Linked DNA regions of Homo sapiens. The protein of the gene in region 2 interacts with the protein of the main gene of each other region in a biochemical or structural test. Each region holds a gene or a part of one and is shown on either strand. Other genes may lie near its edges.

Evidence for each region.
Region 1: the proteins of CHFR (region 2) and GRB10 form a complex in vitro, tested with the Homo sapiens proteins (one study listed by BioGRID).
Region 3: the proteins of CHFR (region 2) and HLTF form a complex in vitro, tested with the Homo sapiens proteins (one study listed by BioGRID).

The regions. Positions count from the first base shown.
Region 1 is NC_000007.14:50,667,886-50,674,992, reverse strand, and holds part of GRB10 (growth factor receptor-bound protein 10), read left to right. Parts: intron 1-334; coding exon 335-557; intron 558-5,129; coding exon 5,130-5,271; intron 5,272-7,107.
Region 2 is NC_000012.12:132,877,542-132,884,648, reverse strand, and holds part of CHFR (E3 ubiquitin-protein ligase CHFR), read left to right. Parts: intron 1-6,994; coding exon 6,995-7,094; intron 7,095-7,107. UniProt on the Homo sapiens protein: E3 ubiquitin-protein ligase that functions in the antephase checkpoint by actively delaying passage into mitosis in response to microtubule poisons.
Region 3 is NC_000003.12:149,083,468-149,091,010, reverse strand, and holds the start of HLTF (helicase-like transcription factor), read left to right. Parts: upstream 1-4,477; 5' UTR 4,478-4,674; coding exon 4,675-4,694; intron 4,695-6,121; coding exon 6,122-6,329; intron 6,330-7,543. UniProt on the Homo sapiens protein: Has both helicase and E3 ubiquitin ligase activities. Possesses intrinsic ATP-dependent nucleosome-remodeling activity; This activity may be required for transcriptional activation or repression of specific target promoters.

The DNA.
Region 1 (7,107 bases), on a different chromosome or scaffold from region 2:
TGGCTGTGTGCGGCCTACCGGAGGGGGTGGGGAGGAGAGAAGGGGGTGCTGAAGGGAGCTGAGCAGATGCTCTGAATGGCTTCTCCCTGGAGACAGGTAGAAATGCAGCCCAGCTCTAATGATTGAATTGTCTCTGGAATGTCAGTCATGATGAATACATGTAATATGCATGCTTCCATACAGTCATACTTGTCTTGGTGTTTCCCCTCTACCCCTTCCATAATATTTGAAAAATAGGATTGAGGTTTGGAACCTGATCACCAAGATGTACATTTGGGTTTGATTGCTCTCCATTGTTAAAGTTTCTTTTTTGCTCTTGCCTTTTTCTGTGCAGAGGATGATGTGGACCTGGAAGCCCTGGTGAACGATATGAATGCATCCCTGGAGAGCCTGTACTCGGCCTGCAGCATGCAGTCAGACACGGTGCCCCTCCTGCAGAATGGCCAGCATGCCCGCAGCCAGCCTCGGGCTTCAGGCCCTCCTCGGTCCATCCAGCCACAGGTGTCCCCGAGGCAGAGGGTGCAGCGCTCCCAGCCTGTGCACATCCTCGCTGTCAGGTAGGTCCAGGCCTTATGGGCAGAGCCTTCTCCAAGGATGAGAGCTGTCGGCAGGGACACTGCTCTCTGTGAGTTAAATGGTGTTGGGGGGAATAGTGTTGGTCTTGCAAAGTCAAGAGGCAGATACATTGCTTTGATGGGATAACGGATACACTGAGTGTGTGCAGTGTGCCGCCCTTGGGTTGAACTTTGTAGCCAGTTCAATTCCAGTAGTACCTTTTATTGAGTGCCTGCTATGTGCAAGGCACTGTGCTAGGTAGAGGGATATGCAGGAAAACCACCAGAGGAAAAATCTCTGGAAAGATTGGAAGAACAGCCATGGAGCTGATTGCATGCCCCAAGTCCTCACTACCCAGAGTAGGGACGGGAGGCTAGCAGCTACAGCACCCCCTGGAGCTTGTCGTGCAACCCCAGACCTCCCTCAGAGTTGCATTTTGCCACATTCCTCTGCTAATTCAGGGGTAGGCACATCTCTGTGGAAACAGGGAGGCTGGAGGGAGGAACGTGCTGGGGACGTTGAGGGAGGTTCCTGGGAGGTAGGATTTCTGAACGGATGTCAAAGGGTGATAGGAGCTCAGATAGATGGAGGCAGAGGTTTTGTGAGCAGAAGAGATGATGCAGATGGGGGCCGGTGCTGAAGCACTTTGTGTGCCTTTTTCAGGAGCCACGTGAGAAAGAGTTCTGGACAGGCGTGTGAAGGGGCTGGGTTTGGGTTTTGACACCAGCATTCTGGTTGCCAGGGGTCGTGGGGGCAGTGGTAGAGGGCAGCAGGGTTGGCAGAGCATGGCCGGTTTGGAAGTGGTCTCAGGAGCCCCCGGATGGGAGATGATTGTGCGCTGCCTGAGGATGAAGAAGGAGGGGGGATTTGAGCACGTTGCTGAGGAGGAGCAGCTGCGTTTTGCCAGCACTTGAATTTTGCCAGGGCTGTGAGGAGACAGAGAGTGTGTGGAGGGTGACTTGGATTTTGTCTCGAGTGCCTGGGAGGAGGGTGTCTAGAGAATGGTCATGTCGAAGGTGAAGGTGCTGAGAGTACCTTAGACATTCTGAATGAAGATCTTTGTAGAATCAAGCTGAGAGCCAGGGGCAGCCCTCAAGGATCCGCCTGTCTGCCCTGTCGCAGTCGGGATGGCGTGGGGCTCCGTGGGACCCTGCGTGCCTCTCTGGGCCTTTGCGGAGGATGTACAGCCATCTCTGCTGGGACTGCCCCTTGCCCTCACTGGCCTCTGTCAGGATGGGGTTCTGGTGCCTTCTGTCTCAGCACCCCATCTTCCGGGGAGCTCTGTTCATTTCCTGGGCTCTTCTTGCTTCTAGAAACTTCTGAGAGTTTTCTTTGTGGTCTGACATCTTGGGTCTTCCGCAGCCCAGATAATCACCTTGCCCCAGGTGGCAGCTGTTTCTTACGGAGGGGAGAGGGTGCAGCGGCCCTGGCGCCCGTGGTCAGCTGCCTCCCCAGCTTCCCACCCCGGCTTCCCCTCCGACTTCTCACTTTTTGTCATATTCATTGATGCTGAATGATGCCTGTCCCAGGGTTTGTTCAACTTTGCTCTTTGAAGCGTGACCCCTTGTACTTAGCTCCTGAGGAGTTAAGTCTGGTGGGAGAGCTGTTTTTCTCTTGGGAGCATCTCTTGGGAGCATCACAGTAGCCTTGGGGAGTGCCTGGGAATATGGAGGTGCAGTTGCATGGCGAAGGTGCCCGAGGGTGGGCTGGAAAGCCAGAAGGCCTGCCTCCCTGCTGGAGTAGTTGCCCAGGACCCTTGAACCTCGAGTTCTGGCTGAACTCGCCCATATGTGCCCCGGGACTACCTGCGCTAAGTCCCTGGGATGGAGGGGCAGGCTTGCTCTGTGGGACAGCAAAGCCCTCTCCCTACAGGGTCACAGGTGCTGTTCCTTGGGCCCAATGTCTTCTCTCTGGTGTCCTCTCAGATAAGTAGTTTTGTTTCTTACTTTCAGGTGGATTAAAAAAAAATGTGGAGATCAATCTGGAATCACCAAAGATTATTTTGTGAAGTGAGGCCATTTGCTGAGTGCTTACTGTGTGCAGATGCTGATGAGCTCCTCCTTGTTATCAGTGCCCTCGGAGGGAGGCAGTGTGGGTTACCCTCGCTTCCCAGCTGAGGAAACCGTGGCACAGCGGGGCGGTAACTGGGCTCACCACATCAGGTGGGAAGTGGCCATGGAGCAGGCTGCTGGGTACCAGAGGTCACGGAGCATGGTCCACGCTGCAGAGGAACTTACCGGGGGCTGCCATGCAACCCGAAGGGAGCTGGGGGGCAGGCAGGGTATGGGCAGAGGAGACACTTGGGAAGGGCAAGAAGGCTTTGCACATAGGAAAGCCGATGGGTGAGCCGATTCTGTACAGAGAAGGAACCCAGGCTTTTGAGAGTGCAAGGGCCACGCATGTGTTCTAGACAAACACAAGTGAGCCAAGGCACAGAGAAGAAGGACCTCGCCCCTCAGCTCTGCAGTTCCTGCCACCATCCCTGACATCCCTAAATCTCAGCACCCCTCTCCATAGTCACTGTCCCTTCTATTGTGAGCCTCTTTGGTGGGGATTTTTTGTCTTTGTGTGATATCCCTTAGTCTTGCCTTAGGCGATGTCTCTGAGCCGCTTTAAAGTCAACACAGGACTTTTTAAAATGCTCAAAACAACCCAATAAATAGAGAAGCTTTTGTGGACACTAAAACGTCAGATTATCTTTTTGGGGTGAAGTCACTGGCTAGAAGCCGTGGATGGGAAAGTGGCACTGGCCACCCGTTTTATCCATCTCCTCCTGTATGACAATGGCCAGACGTTTCAGTTGGACGCCTTGCCAAGGCTGAAGCTGTTATGGGAAGAGTGGGATTTGTTCACAGTAAAAATAAACTTTATGGCATGTCATCAAACCATTATAGGAACGGCTTTCCTGTATTTCGCAGCACTGATTCCCTTCATGCCATGTGAGTTCTCGTAATTTTAAATCCATGCATCATTTGCTGGTCTACGTGGGATAGTTAGCTGGATCTTCCTTTAAAAAATAGGGAAAGTTGGTAAAAGAGAAAAAGTAATACAGTCACAAAATGTGTTTCTGTAGTGGCAAATCTCCTGGGAAAGCTAACGGATTGTTGATTTTGTGAAATCGTAAAAATTGTCAAAAAAATTACTTGAGGACACAGCCTATGATGGGGGTTTCTGAGGTATGTTTAAACATGGGGAGGGATTGGAAATGCCGAGTGAAGATAATGTGAGGTTTGCTCCCCTCTCCTTGAAGGTAGGAGGCTGCAGACAGGGCCGCGTGGCCTCAGGAAGGGTGGAGGAGGCTGTGTGTCCAGGAGTGCCCTGGAGGTGTGGGCCAGAAGTTACTCTACAGAGGGGAGGTGCCAGACACTTGACATTCGCTTTGACTTTGAACTTGATTTCTCTGCTGTTCACAGTTGCTTCTGATTCGTCATACTGTGTGTGTGTTGCATAGTTGTGTGACAAGTGGGTTGTGCATTTTTCGGAGGAGGGAACAGATGCCCCTGGAGATGTGCCAGGAAAGTAGAGGTGGTGTGTGGATTCAGCGTGTGTTTCCAAGGTGTGTTTCTAATGTGGACACAGGCTTTGCGAGGACAGATACATGAAGCTATAATTTCCAGTTAATTCAGTGTCAACAACCTTTTTATATAAGTAACCATCCATTGCATAATTCAGATGAGAACACACAGCCTTTTCTTGTATTTTCATTTGATTAGATTAATGCTCATTTCAAGGACATTGAAAAACACTTGGTTCTCATGAAAATGCTCATATTCAGAAAACTTTCACACATCAGGTATTCACTGATCAAACGGATGAGGTATTTGGAGCTGATGCCATGTCAGGCACTGAATGCTGCCTGAGATGAGCACGCACCCAGGACAACAAAACTTCGGCACCCCGCCCCCCGCCCCCGATGCCTAATGAAGAAGAGAATTGATACCCAATACCCTTTGGGTCTGAGAATGACAACTTGTAATTTTTTTAAAGTTTTCGTTTTAGTAAAATACATGTAACATAAAATTTACCATATTAACTGTTTTTTTCAGGGTACAGTTCGGTAGTATTAATGCACACTCACAATGGTTGTACAATCTCCAGAACTTTCTCATCTTATGAAACTGAAACTCTGTCCCCAATAAACAGCGATTCCCCATTGCCCTCCCCTTAGTCCCCTGGCAGCCACCCTTCTATTTTCTATGGGTTTGAATACACTACCTACCTCACTGGGTGAAATCACACAGTGTCTCTGGTTTTGTGACTGGTGTGTTTGACTCTGCATAATGTCTTCAGGGTTCATCCGTGTCGTAGCCTGTGTCAGAATGTGCTTCCTTTTTCATGGCTGAGTAGTGTTCCATGGTATGGATATGCCACATATTGTTCATCCATTCATCCATCTGCAGACCCTTGGGATGCCTCTACTTTTTGGCTTTTGTGAAGGATGCCACTGTGAACGTGGGCATGCCAGTGACTCCTAGAAGCCCTGTGTCCTGCTTTCTGGGTGTATCACCACAGTGGTAAGGCTGGGTCATGTGGGGAATGGCAGCTTTTAACAGGCACTTATCCCTGCCTTCCAGGCGCCTTCAGGAGGAAGACCAGCAGTTTAGAACCTCATCTCTGCCGGCCATCCCCAATCCTTTTCCTGAACTCTGTGGCCCTGGGAGCCCCCCTGTGCTCACGCCGGGTTCTTTACCTCCGAGCCAGGCCGCCGCAAAGCAGGTGAGTGTGCCCCTGGCTGGAGCCCAGGCTGAGGGATATGCCAGATTATTGGGATCTGCACAGATGTGCCAGATTATTACTTTGGGAAGAAGGGCGGGAAGTCCTGGGATCTTCTCTCTCAGTTCTTTTCTTGTTGTCACAGTACTTGTTGTCCTATGAGGCCGATACAGTTTGGATGTTGTCCCCTCCAAATCCCATGTGGAATTGTAATCCCCAATTTTGGAGGCAGGGCCTGGTGGGAGGTGATTGGATCTTAGGGGTAGATTCCTCATGGCTTGGTGCTGTCCTCACAATAGTAAGTTCTCACGAGATCTGGTTGTTTAAAAGTGCGTGTCATCTCCTCCCCTTGCTCCCACTCCTGCTGTGCGAGACGCCAGTTCCTGCTTTGCCTTCTGGCATGATTGTAAGCTCCTAAGTCCTCATCAGAAGCCGAGCACATGCCCGCACCATGATTCTTGTACAGGCTGCAGAACCATGAACCAATTAAACCTCTTTTCATTATTGATCAAAACTCTGTTTTATCTTTATATTTTAGAAAAAGTCTCATAAAAAATGGCAAATAATAACAATGATTTGATGTTTAAAGATGAATCTTAGTTCTTTGAAAAAGTTTCACCACTGGCTCAATAATAGGTGTGAAAATGCTGGGCTCACCCGGGCACCTGGATGTCAGTACACAGGAGTTGAAGAGTTTCTGTCTTGTAGTCCTGACTTTGAATATGATCTGCCGAAAGCAGAAGAGTTTCCATTGGACCCGCAGGGCAATAACCTCCTTTTTGAACTTGTAGTTTCTACTTAAAGTAGATCCATGAAGTAGATAGGACACAACCATTGTCCCCATATGAGGAAACTGAGGCACAGAGCATTTCAGTAATGTGTCCAAGGTCAAACAGCCAACAAGTCAGCTTAGCAGAGAAACTGGCAGAGAAAGGGGTTGAAAGTTCCTCCCCACCGGTTGGCAGGGCTGTGAGCCAGGATGGGCTGCAGCCTCTGGAGGAAGACCCCTAGGGGTGGAGGTGATCATTAGAACAACTGCGCCATCTGATGTTTATGGAGTGAGGGATTTCTGTGTGCCAGGCCTTGTCGTAAGTGGTGGATATGTTTATTTTTTGTTTATTTATATGTTCATTTACTCCTCATGCCATCCCGTATGAATTAAGTACGCATGTTCCCTCTGTTCCACAGTTGAGGGAAGGGAGGCCCCTGTAAGCAGCTGAGCTGAGTGTGGCTGAGACCTGATGGTGCGGCTGAGTGTGACCCGGCCTCAGAATCGGAGCCTGTGATTGCAGCCACTGTGCTGATTGGCTTCCCGGGACTTTGACTTTCCTTCTGCTAAATGCATATTTAGAAGTCATTTTGCCCTTCTACTTGAATCATCTCTTCTCCCTACTTGCTCTCACTTCCCTACCTTTGCTGTTCTCAAGCAAGACAGGCCAGCCATCCCTTTCTCTGCAAATCTGCCTGTCCTGTGCCATGCAAGGTCTGTCCTCTTGAGAGAGAGACCTTTTTCCAATACCCGCTGGCTCCCAAGTGTGGGTCCCGTTCTGACCTCAGGCCCCCGGAGCAGGCTGCATTATGGCACTATCAAAACTTAGAAGGTGAGGTAAGTGTCCCTCATCTGGGAGCCAGCACTGGCTGGGCTTGTGCACTTTGTCACATGTCTAAAGTGCATCTGGGATGTCTACCTCGCTGGTGACCTTCTGCTTCAAATAAGGATCCAGACAAGCTGTCTGTGGGTTTTGTCACTGAGGTTGTTTACAGAGCTACCCATTCTAAAATAAGACCATGAAAATATTATCTGGCTCTCTCAGCCTTTGGCAAGAAAATTGGCCTCCA
Region 2 (7,107 bases):
CCTCTTAAGAGGGCACCAGCCCTGTGACATCTGATTCCCACCTAGTGACCTCATTTAACATTTATCAGCTCACAGGCCCCATTTCCAAATACAGTCACATTGGGGATTAGGACTTAAATATATGAATTTTAGGGGGGTACAGACACTCAGTTACAAACATTCAGTTCCTAACAGTTGTAGAACTTGATTATTTTATTTATTTATTTTATATATATATATGTATTTTTTTTTTTGAGACGGAGTTTTGCTCTTATTGCCCAGGCTGTAGTGCAGTGGTGCCTTCTTGGCTCAACCTCCAACCTCCCGGGTTCAAGCAATTCTCCTGCCTCAGCCTCCCGAGTAGCTGGGATTACAAGTATGTGCTACCACGCTCAGCTACTTTTTGTATTTTTAGTAGAGACGGGGTTTCTCCATGTTCGTCAGGCTGGTCTTGAACTCCTGACCTCAGGTGATCCACCCGCCTCGGCTTCCCAAAGTGCTGGGATTACAGGCGTGAGCCACTGTGCCCGGCCTGATATATTTATTTTTTGAGACGGAGTCTTACTCTGTCACCCAGGCTGGAGTGCAGTGGTGCGATCTTCACTCACTACAACCTGCATCTTCCAGGTTAAAGTGATTCTCCTGCCTGAGCCTCCAGACTAGCTGAGATTTCAGGCGTGTGCCACCACACCTGGCTAGTTTTTTGGTATTTTTAGTAGAGATGAGGTTTTACCATGTTGGTCAGGCTGGTCTTGAACTCCTGGCCTCAAATCAAATGATCCACCTGCCTTGGCCTCCCAAAGCGTTGGGATTACAGCCATGAGCCACCTCGCCCAGACAGAACTTGATTATTTTAAAGCAATGATGTGCCTGCCATTTATAAGGCATTATTTGGGGGAAAAGGGAAAGCCTAGGTAACGTGTAGGAAGGGGTGCAACAACCTTGTTTTCCCAAAGAGCTCTTTATCCAGTCTGGAGTGCAGTGGCACGATCTCGGCTCACTGCAAGCTCTGCCTCTTGGGTTCACACCATTCTCCTGCCTCAACCTCCCAAGTAGCTGGGACTACAGGCACCCGCCACCATGCCCGGCTAATTTTTTTTGTATTTTTAGTAGAGACAGGGTTTCACCATGTTAGCCAGGATGGTCTTGATCTCCTGACCTCATGATCCACCCGCCTCGGCCTCCCAAAGTGCTGGGATTAGAGGCGTGAGCCACTGCGCCCAGTCTTTTTTTTTTTTTTTTTGAGACGGAGTTTCACTCCTATTTCTCAGGCTGGAGTGCAATGATGTGATCTCGGCTCACTGCAACCTCCGCCTCCCAGGTTCAAGTGATTCTCCTTCCTCAGCATCCAGAGTAGCTGGGATTACAGGCACTCACCACCATGCTTGGCTAATTTTTGTATTTTGTAGAGACAGGGTTTCATCATGTTGGCTAGGCTAGTCTCTAAGTCCTGACCTCAGGTGATCCTCCCGCCTCGGCCTCCCAATGTGCTGGGATTACAGGTGTGATCCACCGCGCCCAGCCAAGAGCTCTTTATTCTAAGAGAGTGGCAGAAATGTACATCAACTGCTTGAAAGATTTAACCCACCAAGCGTCAAGCGCAGCAAATGCTGTGAATAGAACTTTAGCACAAAGCATCTCGGTTCCAGATTAGAATGCTGATATTCAGGCCAGGCACGGTGGCTCATGCCTGTAATCCCAGCAGTTTGGGAGGCCAAAACAGGAGGATCTCTTGACCCTATGAGTTTGAGACCAGCTAGGGCAACATAGACCCTGTATCTACAAAAACTTAAAAAATTAGCTGAGCGTGGTGGTGCATATTGGTAGTCTCAGCTACTCAGGAGGCTGAAGTGGGAGGATCACATGAGCCTGGGAGTTCAAGGCTGCAGTGAGCTGTGATTGCTCCACTGCACCACAGCTGGGGTAACAGCGCAAGGCCTTGTCTCAAAGAAAAAAAAAAAAACCTGATGTTCTGGCATGGAGACGCCTCTGTTACAAACTGGCTCTGGCGACACCGTGACTTGCACTGGTTTTGGGGCTTGAAGGAGACTGTCCTGGCAGTTAACGCTCAATGGAATGGGAAGAGCTTGACCACAGGTGATACTTGCCTTGGATACAGTACTTCCAATAGTACAGAATGTTTGCACAAATAAGATTTTTAATATCCGGTTTCATGGCAGTATCATTTACTTGTAGTAAAATTCACCTTTTTTGGGGTTCAGTTCCATGAGTTTTGGGAAATGTACTCACCAGTGCAGTCAAGATGTAGAACATGTTCGTCACCCTGAAAGGTCCCCCTGAGTCCCGGCTCCTGGCAGCCACTGATCTGGTTTCTTTGCCTTCTGCTGCTTCCAGCGTGTCGTGACACAGGGTCACAGGGTGTCTGCCATCATCTTCTGCGCCTGGCTTCTTTCCCTGGCACGCACCTTGTTGCATGGATGAGCAGTTTGCTCCTTTCTGTTACCGGGTAGTGTTCTGTGGTTTGGATGCACCATGGCTTGTTAGTTTACAACCAGTGGATGGACATTTATACTGCTTCCTGTTTTTGTAAGAAATAAAGCTAATATAAACATAAGTGTGCAGTCTTTGTAGGGACATACATTTTTCTCTTAGCTAAGTAACTATGAATGGAATTGCTGGGCCACGTGGCCAGTGTCTGTTTAACTTGCTGAGAAACTGCCGCATTGTTTCCCATGTGCTTGTCCATTTTGCAGTCCCACAGCACAGTACGAGAGTTCCAGGTTTTCCACTTCCCTTTTGGCCACTTGTAGGTGGTCAGTCTTTTTTTTTTTTTTTTTTTTTGAGACAGCGTCTTGCCCTGTCGCCAGGCTGGATTTGCAGTGGCGCAATCTCAGCTCACTGCAACCTCCGCCTCCCGGGTTCAAGCCATTCTCTTGCCTCAGCCTCCTGAGTAGCTGGGACTACAGGCACGTGCCACCATGCCCGGCTAATTTTTTTGTATCTTTAGTAGAGACGGGGTTTCACCATGTTGGCCAGGATGGTCTCAATCTCTTGACCATGTGATCCGCCCGCCTCGGCCTCCCAAAGTGCTGGGATTACAGGCGTGAGCCACCGTGCCCGGCCCGTGGTCAGTATTTTCAGCCAATTCTTATTTGGTGTGTAGTGGTATTTCATGGTTTTAATTTGCATTTCTCTGAAGATTAATGATGTTGAGCATTTTGTCATGTGCTTAATTTGCCATCCATATCTCTTCTTTGATAAAGTGTTTAAATTGTTTTAAGTTGCATTATTTACTTTCTATTTATTGAGTTATCAGAGTTCTCTATACATTCTGGATACAAGATCTTTGTCAGATATGTGTTTTACAAATATTTCCACCAGTCCATAGCTTGTCTTTTCATCTTTTTAAACAATATCTTTGAAGAACAGATTTTTACTTTTTTTTTTTTTTGAGATGGAGTCTCGCTCTGTTGCCAGGCTGGAGTGCAGTGGCACGATCTCAGCTCACTGCAACCTCCACCTCCCATGTTCTCCCACCTCAGCCTCTCAAGTAGCTGGGATTACAGGTGCATGCTACCATGCCCGGCTAATTTTTTGTATTTTTAGTCGAGATGGGGTCTCATCCTGTTGGCCAGGCTGGTCTCGAAGTCCTGGTCTGAAGTGATCCGCCCGCCTTGGCCACCCAAAGTGATGGGATTATAGGCGTGAACCACCGCCCCCAGCCTTACTTTTTTTGTTGTTGTTGAGCCAGAGTCTCGCTCTGTCGCCCAGGCTGGAGTGCAGTGGCGTGATCTCGGCTCACTGTAACCTCCGCTTCCTGGGTTCCCACCATTCTCCTGCCTTAGCCTCCCGTGTAGCTGGGATTATAGGCGCCCGCCACCATGCCTGGCTAAGTTTTGTATTTTTAGTAGAGACTGGGTTTCACCATGTTGGTCAGGCTGGTCTTGAACTCCTGACCTTGTGATCCGCCCGCCTCGGCCTCCCAACGTGCTGAGATTACAGGTGTGAGCCACCACGCCTGGCCCAGAATTGACTTTTTTTTTCTTTTTTTGAGTCGGAGTCTTGCTCTGTTGCCCAGGCTGGAGTGCAGTGGCACCATCTTGGCTCACTGCAAGCTCCACCTCCTGGGTTCACGCCATTCTTCTGCCTCAGCCTCCTGAGTAGCTGGGACTACAGGCGCCCGCCATCACGCCCAGCTAATTTTTTGTAGTTTTGGTAGAGACGTGGTTTCACCATGTTAGCCAGGATGGTCTCGATCTCCTGACCTTGTGATCCGCCCCCCCCTTGGCCTCCCAAAGTGCTGGGATTACAGGTGTGAGCCACGGCACCTGGCCCACATTTTACTTTTGACAAACCTCAGCTTATTATTATTATTTTTTCCTGGTTTGTGCTTTTTATATCCTATCTGCGAAGTCCATGCAAGACCCAACGGCACTAAGATTTTTGCCTGTCTTTTCCACTGGAAGTTTCATAGTTTTAGATTTTACATTTGTCTCTGTCTGGCCATCCTTACACAGCCACAATACTGTATTGTTTACTATAGCATGATGGTAAGTCAGTTAAGTAATATGAGTCTTCCAGCTTCATTCTTTTTCAAAATTGCTTTGGTTTTTCTACACGTTTTTTCTGTGAACTTTAGAATCAGCTTGTCAGTGTCTACAAGCCCTCTGGGATTTTGACTGGAATTGCATTGAATGTATGAAACAATCTGGAGGACAGCTGACATTTTAACAATACTGAGTCTTCTGATTCACACACCCATAGGTCAGTGATGGGAGCAAGGCTCAGGCTAAAGCAGATTCAGGGTGTCTTTCTGTGTGGAACGTTTAGGAAAAGTATGTTTGCATGCCACTGTCTCCTGACCAAACCCTTCGCTTTTTTGTCTTCTAGTATCTTTATGTATCCTTATAGATTATTATAGGCAGTAATGATTAATGATGAGATATTAAAACGCCTTTGTTCTTTTGATTTAAGGAGAGGGCAAGTATTGAGGATTTTCCCTCTTGCTTTTGTATTCAGGGCCGGGCGCTGGTGGCTCACGCCTGTAATCCCAGCACTTTGAGAAGCCGAGGCGGGCATATCACGAGGTCAAGAGATCGAGACCATCCTGGCCAACATTGTGAAACCTCATCTCTACTAAAAATACAAAAATTAACTGGCCCTGGTGGTGTGCGCCTGTAATCCCAGCTACTCAGGAGGCTGAGGCAGGAGAATCGCTTGAACCCGGGAGGCAGAGGTTGCAGTGAGCTGAGATCGTGCCACTGCACTCCAGCCTGGGCCACAGAAAGAGACTCCGTCTCAAAAAAAAAAAAAGAAAAAAAAAATCCCAAAGTGTCAGAATTACTGTATTCAGCTATAGATGCATCCCTGTATATAAGATGCAGTTTCTTATACGTGTACAAATGCCTATCGCAGGCCAGGTGCGGTGGCTCAAGCCTGTAATCCCAACACTTTGGGAGGCTGAGGCGGGTGGATCAAGAGGTCAGGAGTTCAAGACCAGCATGGTGAAACCCCGTCTCTACTAAAAATACAAAAAATTAGCTGGGTATGGTGGCGCATGCCTGTAGTCCCAGCTGCTCAGGAGGCTGAGGCAGGAGAATGGCTTGAACCTGGGAGGTGGAGGTTGTGGTGAGCCGAGATGGTGCCACTGCACTCCAGCCTGGGCGACAGTGCGAGACTCCATCTCAAAAAAAAAAAAACAAACAAAAACAAAAAAAAAAACAAATGCCTATCACAGTTGGCTCAGTCACTTTTTCTGTGACTGTCATTGCTTCAATTTTATGTTGATTTATGAAACCTAAGTTTACACAGAAAAGAAATTAAGGACTAAATTAAGATACTGAAGAATTACTTAAGCCCCTGAGTTTTTTTTTTTCTTTTTTTTTTTTTGAGACAGAGTCTTGCTCTGTCACCCAGGCTGGAGTGCAGTGGCGCCATATCGGCTCACTGCAAGCTCCTCCTCCCGGGTTCTCGCCATTCTCCTGCCTCATCCTCCTGAGTAGCTGGGATTACAAGGCGCCCGCCACCACGCCCGGCTAATTTTTTGTATTTTTAGTAGAGATGGGGTTTCACTGTGTTAGCCAGGATGGTCTCGATCTCCTGACCTTGTGATCTGCCCGCCTCGGTGTGAGCCACCGGACCTAGCCAACCCCCTGAGTTTTTTTAAAGTTCTAATAATACTCATCAGGTTAGCTGTGTATGCAAGCATATTGTAAAATTGCTTTTTTTTTTTTTTATTTCCAGTTGGAGTCTAGCTCTGTCGCCAAGGCTGGAGTGCAGTGGCGCGATCTCAGCTCACTGCAACCTCTGCCTCCTGGGTTCATGCGATTCTCCTGCCTCAGCCTCCCAAGTAGCTGGGATTATAGGCAACCGCCACCATGCCCAGCTAATTTTTGTATTTTTAGTAGATATGGGGTTTCACTGTGTTGGCCAGGCTGGTCTCGAACTCCTGACCTCGTGATCCATTCACCTCAGCTTCTCAAAGTGCTGGGTTTACAAGTATGAGCCACTGCGCCTGGCTGTAAAATTGCCATTTAAGAGGCTGTGTGTAACTGGAGGTATTGATGGGTGTCTTTGAGAGGGTGGGGATTCAGAAAGGTTCAGGATGGGCCGGGCGCGGTGGCTCACGCCTGTAATCTCAGCACTTTGGGAGGCCAAGGTGGGCAGATCATGAGGTCAAAAGATCGAGACCATCCTGGCTAACATGGTGAAACCCCGTCTCTACTAAAAACACAAAAAATTAGCCAGGCGTGATGGCGGGCGCCTGCAGTCCCAGCTACTCTGGAGGCTGAGGCAGGAGAATGGTGTGAACCTGGGAGGCGGAGCTTGCAGTGAGCCGAGATGGTGCCACTGCACTCCAGCCTGGGCGACAGAGCGAGACTCCGTCTCAAGAAAAAAAAAAAAATTTCTTTATGTCTTTCTTGGTCAAGTGTTTTTTTTTACATATGTACAATGGGGATCCTGAGTTGGAACCACATACTTTGGTAAACAAAGTGCAGTAGTGTTCACAGTTACCACGATCATATCCCGTGTTGACCCACCCTCTCTTTTTTAGGTTGCGACCTTTCCTTCCCCAGCAATAAACTGGTCTCTGGAGATCACTGTAGAATTGTAGTGGATGAAAAATCAGGTCAGGTGACACTGGAAGATACCAGGTGAGTATGTTCT
Region 3 (7,543 bases), on a different chromosome or scaffold from region 2:
ACCATAATCCTGATGATGCCCTCCAGCCTTCACAGGGCTAGAGGCTCACAAGGCTACCCCGGGTCCCCTTAACAGAGCCACCTCAGTCACCTTTACTCCTTTATTGCCTTGGCACATTTCTAGTCTCTGAGGTTCTCTCTGAGATCTGCAGAATACTGAGGCCACTCTCTGGGAAATGTGGCATAGCTTCCTTTTCTTGTGTAATCTACAGAAACTTTGCTAGACTTTCTAGCATTCTCCCTTTGTGCAGATTGGCCCAGTGTGATGGTATTCTAGGTCTTCTCTCTAAGACCCACTTAAGGGATTTACTCTGCAAACCCTCCTGCCTGACATTCTTGAAAATTCTCCTCAATTGAACTTTTATCTCCTTTGGAGTGAAAGAAGCGAACAAACAAGCAAGCTCTTACATCATCCTACTTTCTTCAGTCTATGAGTTATGATATAAGCTTAAAAGTTTCTGTATTGAAGCCAGATTTCTAGATATTCAGATTCTTCTCTTAAAGCCCCTCCCTGCTGCCTGGTCCCTGCCCCCACACCAATGGCTTTAAAATTCTATTTTGCAAAGTGTAAAAAACATTTTTTTTTGAGAGGGAGTCTCGCTGTGTCACCCAGGCTGGAGTGCAGTGGAACGATCTCGGCTCGCTGCCATCTCCGCCTCTTGGGTTCAAGTGCTTCTCCTGCCTCAGCCTCCCAAGTAGCTGGGACTACAGGTATGGCACCATCACCCCCTGCTAATTTCTGTATTTGTAGTAGAGACAGGGTTTCACAATGTTGGCCAGGCTGGTCTTGAACTCCTGGCCTCAAGTGATCTGCCCACCTCGGCCTCCCAAAATACCAGGGTTACAGGCGTAAGCCACCACACCCAGCCTAGAAAAGGCCTAGAAAAAGTGGCTCACGCCTGTAATCCCAGCACTTTGGGAGGCCAAGGCGGGCAGATTGCTTGAGCTCAGGAGTTCGAGACCAGCCTGGCCAATGTGGCAAAACCCCCTGTCTACAAGAAATACAAAAATTAGCCTGGGGGTGGTGGTGCCATGCCTGTAATCGCAGCTACTTGGGGGCTGAGGCTGGAGAATCGCTTGAGCCCAGGAGGTCGAATCACGCCACTGCACTCCAGCCTGGGCTACTGGAGTGAGACCCTGTCTCAAGAAAAAAAAAAATTTTTTTTTTGAGACAATTGTGAACATTTGATTATGAACTAGTTATTAGAAGATACTAAGAAGTGATTTGTTATTAATTTTGCCAGGTCCATGGTTTTTAGAGAAATTAGTGAAGGCCATTATAGGCAGGGTGGGTTGGGAAGTGACCCGAGAAATGAAGCTACTGTGGGAGGAAGAGCCACATATGCCATTCTTGGATTTCAGGCTCACTGAATCAAACGGGAGTGACATGACATGATTAATTTGCATAAAGGTTCTGTGTGTGTGTGTGTGTGTGTGTGTGCACGGGCATGTGTGTGTGTGGCTAGGGGTGCAGATGAGAAGTGTGTTTGTGACTGGGAAGTGGCTGGCTGGAGAAATTTTGGATTCCTTTCCTTTCCATACCATTCCTACCTAAATTTATCAGTGAACATTTTGGTTCTCTTGGCTTCATCACCTTCCCTTTCCAAGCCACCACCATCTCTTATCTGAACACAATAATTTTCTATCAGTTGCTTCTATCCTTGTTTCCTGTAATTCTCCACAGAGCTGCCAGCATTTTTAAAAGCCTAAATCAAGTCGTTATCCTCCTGCTCGAAACATTCAATGGCTTTCCATTGCAGTTAAAACACAAATTTTACTGGAGACTCTTAAGTTCCTATGTAACCTGGCCCTTATCTTCCCCACCGTCCTTTTAGTGCCACTTTCCTTCTTACTCACCAGCCAAACCCCACAAGCCACCCTACAGTTCATTTTCCAGTTACAAGTGTTCATTTTTCATATCTACTTGTGATGCTGTTATCAGAATAAATCAAGAAAAAACCAAAAAAGTTAATTTTTCAGAAAACATTATTTAGTATAATAGTTTTGAAATTGTAATTGCTGTAACATTTTAATCAAACTAGTACAAATTGTACTTGATCTTTAAATATAAAACAAAGAATGATTAAGGGAAAGAATGTTTTACTCCTGGTTCTGGGATGTGAAATATTGATAACATAGAGAAAACATACTGTGGGAGGAAGAGCCACATATGCCATTCTTGGATTTCAGGCTCACTGAATCAAACAGGGGAGTGACATGACATGATTAATTTGCATAAAGGTTCTGTGTGTGTGTGTGTGTGTGTGTGTGTGTGCGCGCGCGCGGGCATGTGTGTGTGTGTGGCTGGGGGTGCAGATGAGAAGTGTGTTTGTGACTGGGAAGTGGCTGGATGGAGAAATTTTGGATTCCTTTCCTTTCCATACCATTCCTTTAAATAGCAAATTTTAGTTCATTCAAAGCACATTCTTTAACCATGGGACAGTCATTATTCATAGATCTTAAGTCTTTTTATTTTTTTGAGATGGAGTCTCGCTCTGTTGCTCAGGCTGGAGTGCAGTGGCTTGATCTCGGCTCACTGCAACCCATGTCTCCCTGGTTCAAGCGATTCTCCTGCCTCAGCCTCCCAAGTAGCTAGGACTACAGGTGCGTGCCACCACGTCTGCTTAATTTTTGTATTTTCTTAGTAGAGTCAGGCTTTCACCATGTTGGCCAGGCTGGTCTCGAACTCCTGACCTCAGGTGATCCACCCAACTCGGCCTCCCAAAGTGCTGGGATTATAGGTGTGAGCCATTGCGCCTGGCCAGTCTTAAGTCTGAAAGAGCTATGTTCTCATATTTGGAATTTTTTCTTTGTCTAGTGAGCATGACTTTCTTACTCTTACAAAACATCAATTTGAGCAATTTCTGGCATATTTTCCAAGAATTTATTTAAAATCTGGCATACTAAAAGCTGAACTGTATTGCCATTTGCCTCAACACACTTCAAGAAGAACATACAACAATTAAAATAATTTGAAATGCCATTGTCTTTATCTTCCTCATCAACTTTGGTCAAATGAAATAATACATTGTTTCAAATTCTATTGCTCATCCATGGTTCATGATTAGAGATCACTACAGTTTATTTACGATAATGAACAAATGTGTCTTGAAAAGCTGACTACCGGCCTGGCACGGTGGCTCATGCCTGTAATCCCAGCACTCTGGGAGGCCGAGGCGGGCGGATCACCTGAGGTCAGGAGTTCAAGACCAGCCTGGCCAATATGGTGAAACCCCGTCTCTACTAAAAATACAAAAATTAGCTGGGCGTGGTGGCGGGCTCCTGCAATCCCGGCTACTCCGGAGGCTGAGGCAGGAGAATCGCTTGAATCCGGGAGGCGGAGGTTGCAGTGAGCCAAGATCACCCCCATTGCACTCCAGCCTGGGGGACAGAGCAAGACTCCATCTCAATAAAAAAGAAAAAAAAACAAAAAAAAGAAAAAAGAAAAGCTGACCACCTAATATTATTGTGCTGACAGGCGTGTAACATGGACCTCTCTGTGACGCGCAAGTATTATCTGGCAGTTACATGGTGCCGCCTGTGCAGCTGGGCGCCACCACCAGCTTCCTGCCCTGTGCGATTAAAAGGCCAGCTTCGGGGACAGCAGCCTCCTCAACGCAAAGCGACCAGCCCTGCCAGGCGTCGGCTGCAGCTGGTCCAAGGTTGACGGTCCCAGGGCCGCATTCTCCTTCCGGTCACCTCAGACTCTGGAAAGAGAGCCATGGAGGGCCTCAGAGCGCCCCTCTGCAGTTCCTTGAGGAAAACAAGGGCCTCCCCCTCTTGGCTGGAGCAGCCAAGTGCCCACGGGGAAAATGGTCCCGTCCACCATTTCAGGCAAACGCCCCCATAGCTGTAATAAACATGTGATGGGTTTCCTGCACCAAGAAAGGAAAATTTTCCTTAAAAATAACAAAAAGAGGTGGGGAGGGGACTCTAAGTTCCATTTAAGATTTTCCAAACTCGTTGTGTCTCATGCATACGCTGAGGCTTAACATGAAAATTTGGAGCGAAAGTCCCCACGGTTCACCACAGGGAATGAAGTAAAGTATCTCGCCGGTAGCTCTAGGTCTCGTAAACCGTGGAGCTCCTTTAGTATAAGGCCCTATTATGTGCCACATTAGATGAGAAGAAAATAAGAGGAAGGATACGGTAGAGCCTTTAGAATGGGGTTCAGTCTTAGGACTCGTAGGATAAAGGAAGGTCGTTTCCCTCCGTTTGAGGCAGGGAATCAAACAAAACACCGGCACCGCAGGCACCGCAGTCGCACTCCTGGGGCCTCGTGGCTTTCCCGCGCGCCCGCCTTGGGGGCGGGGAAGAACCCGGATGGAACCACCCTTGCAGCCCGGACCCCCCGCCGTCTTTGAATGGCAGCGGGGCGGAGTTGCCCTCCCTTCTGTGCTCTGACTGGTTTGGCTCCGCACTCTCCTCTTCGTGATTGGGCTTTCCTAGTGCCAGTCACAGAGCGACGCTGGTCTCCCAGATTGTTGCAGAAGGAGACGGCGTCGACGTCTGACTGGACTCGCGGCGACTTACCTTTCAGTCGTGCGCTCCTGATCCGGCGCTCGGAATTTGTCCCCGGCTTCAGGGCTGCGGGGCCTGGAAGGAGGCGTATCGAGGCGGCTCGAAAACGATCCAGGGGAGCCGAGGCGCTCCTCTTGTCATCCCACTCAGCGCCATGTCCTGGATGTTCAAGAGGTGAAGGGGGCGGAGGGGGTGGGGCGCTCGGTCTAACGGCCTGGAGGCGTCCCCAAATGAACCTGACCTTCCCCGCGTTCCTCTGCGTTCCCTGGGCGATTTGTGCAGCTGTATTCGTTCTGTTGGTCGCATATGTGGCCGCCGGAGAAATAAATGCATTGTCTTCGCTGGCGAGTAGGGGCTCCTAGGGCGAGTCCCGTGTTAGGGACTTGGGAAATCTCTGTCACCGACTGTGGGGGGCCTGGGGCTTAAAGCATCTCGGCCAGTGCTTTATTTAACAAAACATCCATTAGATACCCACTGTGCGCCAGGCATTGTGCTCGGTGGAGGGCCGAGTAAGACAGTCCTTGTCCCCAAGTGGCTCACAGCTTATCTGTATGCACAGACGTGCAGATAAGTATTTGCAGAGGCGCTAGTAGAGATATGCGCCACTTGCAAGGAAAACGCATCGCAAATAAGCGACTGTTCTTAGGAGAATGGAAACTTTTTGCAATGCTCCAGTAGACTCCCCTTCACTTTTCATTGTCCAAATTGGTATTTATGGTCATTCCCGAAACAGTTACACCTAATGGGTTTGGGGTTATGCTTAAACCGGCGACGGAAGGCGGGTACGGGTGGCTTGGGGCCAATTTCCCACGGTGGCGTGGTTTGGATACCAGAATAGGTGTTCTGCTCGCAGGGAGTTACAGTGATGGATGCTGGATGTATTTTCTGGAAAATTATAAACAACTTCTGGTACATTAATAGTTGTATTTTTATAAGTCTTTTATATAGCTCAATCCCTATTGAAATTTTGGCATATGATTTCATTTTTTAAATTATTTTTTTGACATGGAGTCTCGCTCTGTCGTCCAGGCTGGAGTGCAGTGGCACAATCTCGGCTCGCTGCAACCTACGCCTCCCGGGTTCAAGTGATTCTCCTGCCTCAGCCTCCCGAGTAGCTGGGATTACATATGGGCGCCACCACGCCTGGCTAATTTTTGTATTTGTAGTAGACAGGGTTTCACAATGTTGGCCAGGTTGGTCTCAAATTCCTGACCTCAGGTGATCCACCTGCCTCTGCCTCCCAAAGTGCTGGGATTCCAGGCGTGAGCCACCGCATCCGGCCCATAATTGTAGTTACAGACATCATATACATATCAATTTAGATGATTTTCACTGGGAAAGAGGTTAGTGAACTCTGACTAGGCTTTTCATTTTGAATACCTAGGGGGCAGGTAGAAGAGCCAATATTGAAAACAGGTAGAGTTCCTAGAAGCCTTCTCCACTCACTGCAATTCCTGCTTTAACGAGAGTAACTATTAATCTTTACCGTGATTCCCATGTAAGATTTCATTTGCTGAAGTAAAGCATGAGAAAACTACTCATATGGTCTTTGGAAATACTTAAATATTATATTGTTTTTCTTTGCCTTTAAAAAAAAATAGGGATCCAGTTTGGAAGTACTTGCAGACTGTCCAGTATGGAGTTCATGGAAATTTTCCACGCCTCTCATATCCAACTTTCTTTCCACGTTTTGAATTCCAAGATGTTATCCCTCCAGATGACTTTCTAACTAGTGATGAAGAAGTAGATTCCGTTTTATTTGGAAGTTTGAGAGGTCATGTGGTTGGACTACGCTATTACACGGGAGTAGTGAGTATAATAGTAGATAATTAAATTTTGATTATATTTCTGGCGTTAACCTAGAAAATAAGAGAATTCGCAGGTGATGTGTGCGGTTAATCTTTATTTTACTTTAAGTTAGTTAAATATTTGTACGCAAAAAATAACAAATACCTTAAGTGACCCTCCCACCTCAGCCTCCCAGAGTGTTGGGATTACAGGAATGAGCCAATATGCTTGGCCTCAGTGCGTTATGTTTGGTTATTATGGGTAGCACCCCACCCCCACACCCCAGCGCCTTGTTCATGTCATCGATTTGTTGCAAAAAGGAGATCGTTTTGTGGAATCTTCTGGATTTTATTCTTTCATTTCTCCGTATGTTTCTTATGTTTAAGCTTCTCAATAGGGTGTCTGAAGCATGTTCGACAGGAGATTCCTTAGGAGTTTCATGTTCTGGATTTGTTTTTCTCCTGTATTTCCTTTACATTGGAACGTTTCAAATTGTTTTTTGATTGTCTGAAATGTGTTGTCTAGGAGATTCCTTAGGAAGAGACAATATTTCCTAAGTTTTTATATTTTCATACTTGTGGCATTTTATGAATGACAGTTTCATAAAATGAAAGTTATGAAGGACTTAATGACAGTTGGGCTGAATTTAAAATCTTTGTAATATATCTTTGTAATAAAATCTTTGTAATAAAATCTCCATATCCTAATGTTGCATAGAATTCTCAGGCCAGTGTGATTTTCTTTCACTTAAGTGAATTGGATTTTTTTTTTTTTCTTTTTTTTTGAGACCAAGTTTCGTTTTGTTGCCCAGGCTGGAGTGCAGTGGCCTGATCTGGCCTCACTGCAATCTCTGCCTCCCAGACTCAAGCAATTCTCCCAATTCAGCCTCCTGAGTAGCTGGGACTGCTGGCGTTCACCACCATACCCAGCTAATTTTTGTATTTTTTTTTTTTGTATTTTTTTTTAGGTTTTGGCATGTTGTCCAGGCTGATCTGGAACTCCTGGGCTCAAGTGATCCGTCCGCCTTGGCCTCTCCAAGTGCTGGGATGCTGCACCCGGCCTCTAATTTTTTCTAATAGATTCTTGAACTCTATCAGTTCTTATTTCACATCTATATATTCTCTGGCTCTCATATGCATTTCTGAGCTTTTCTGTTTCAGATTTGTGCTAATTTTTCAAAACTTACATTGCTTTCGATAATTATTTTATACCACCATGAAATACTAGATTATGGT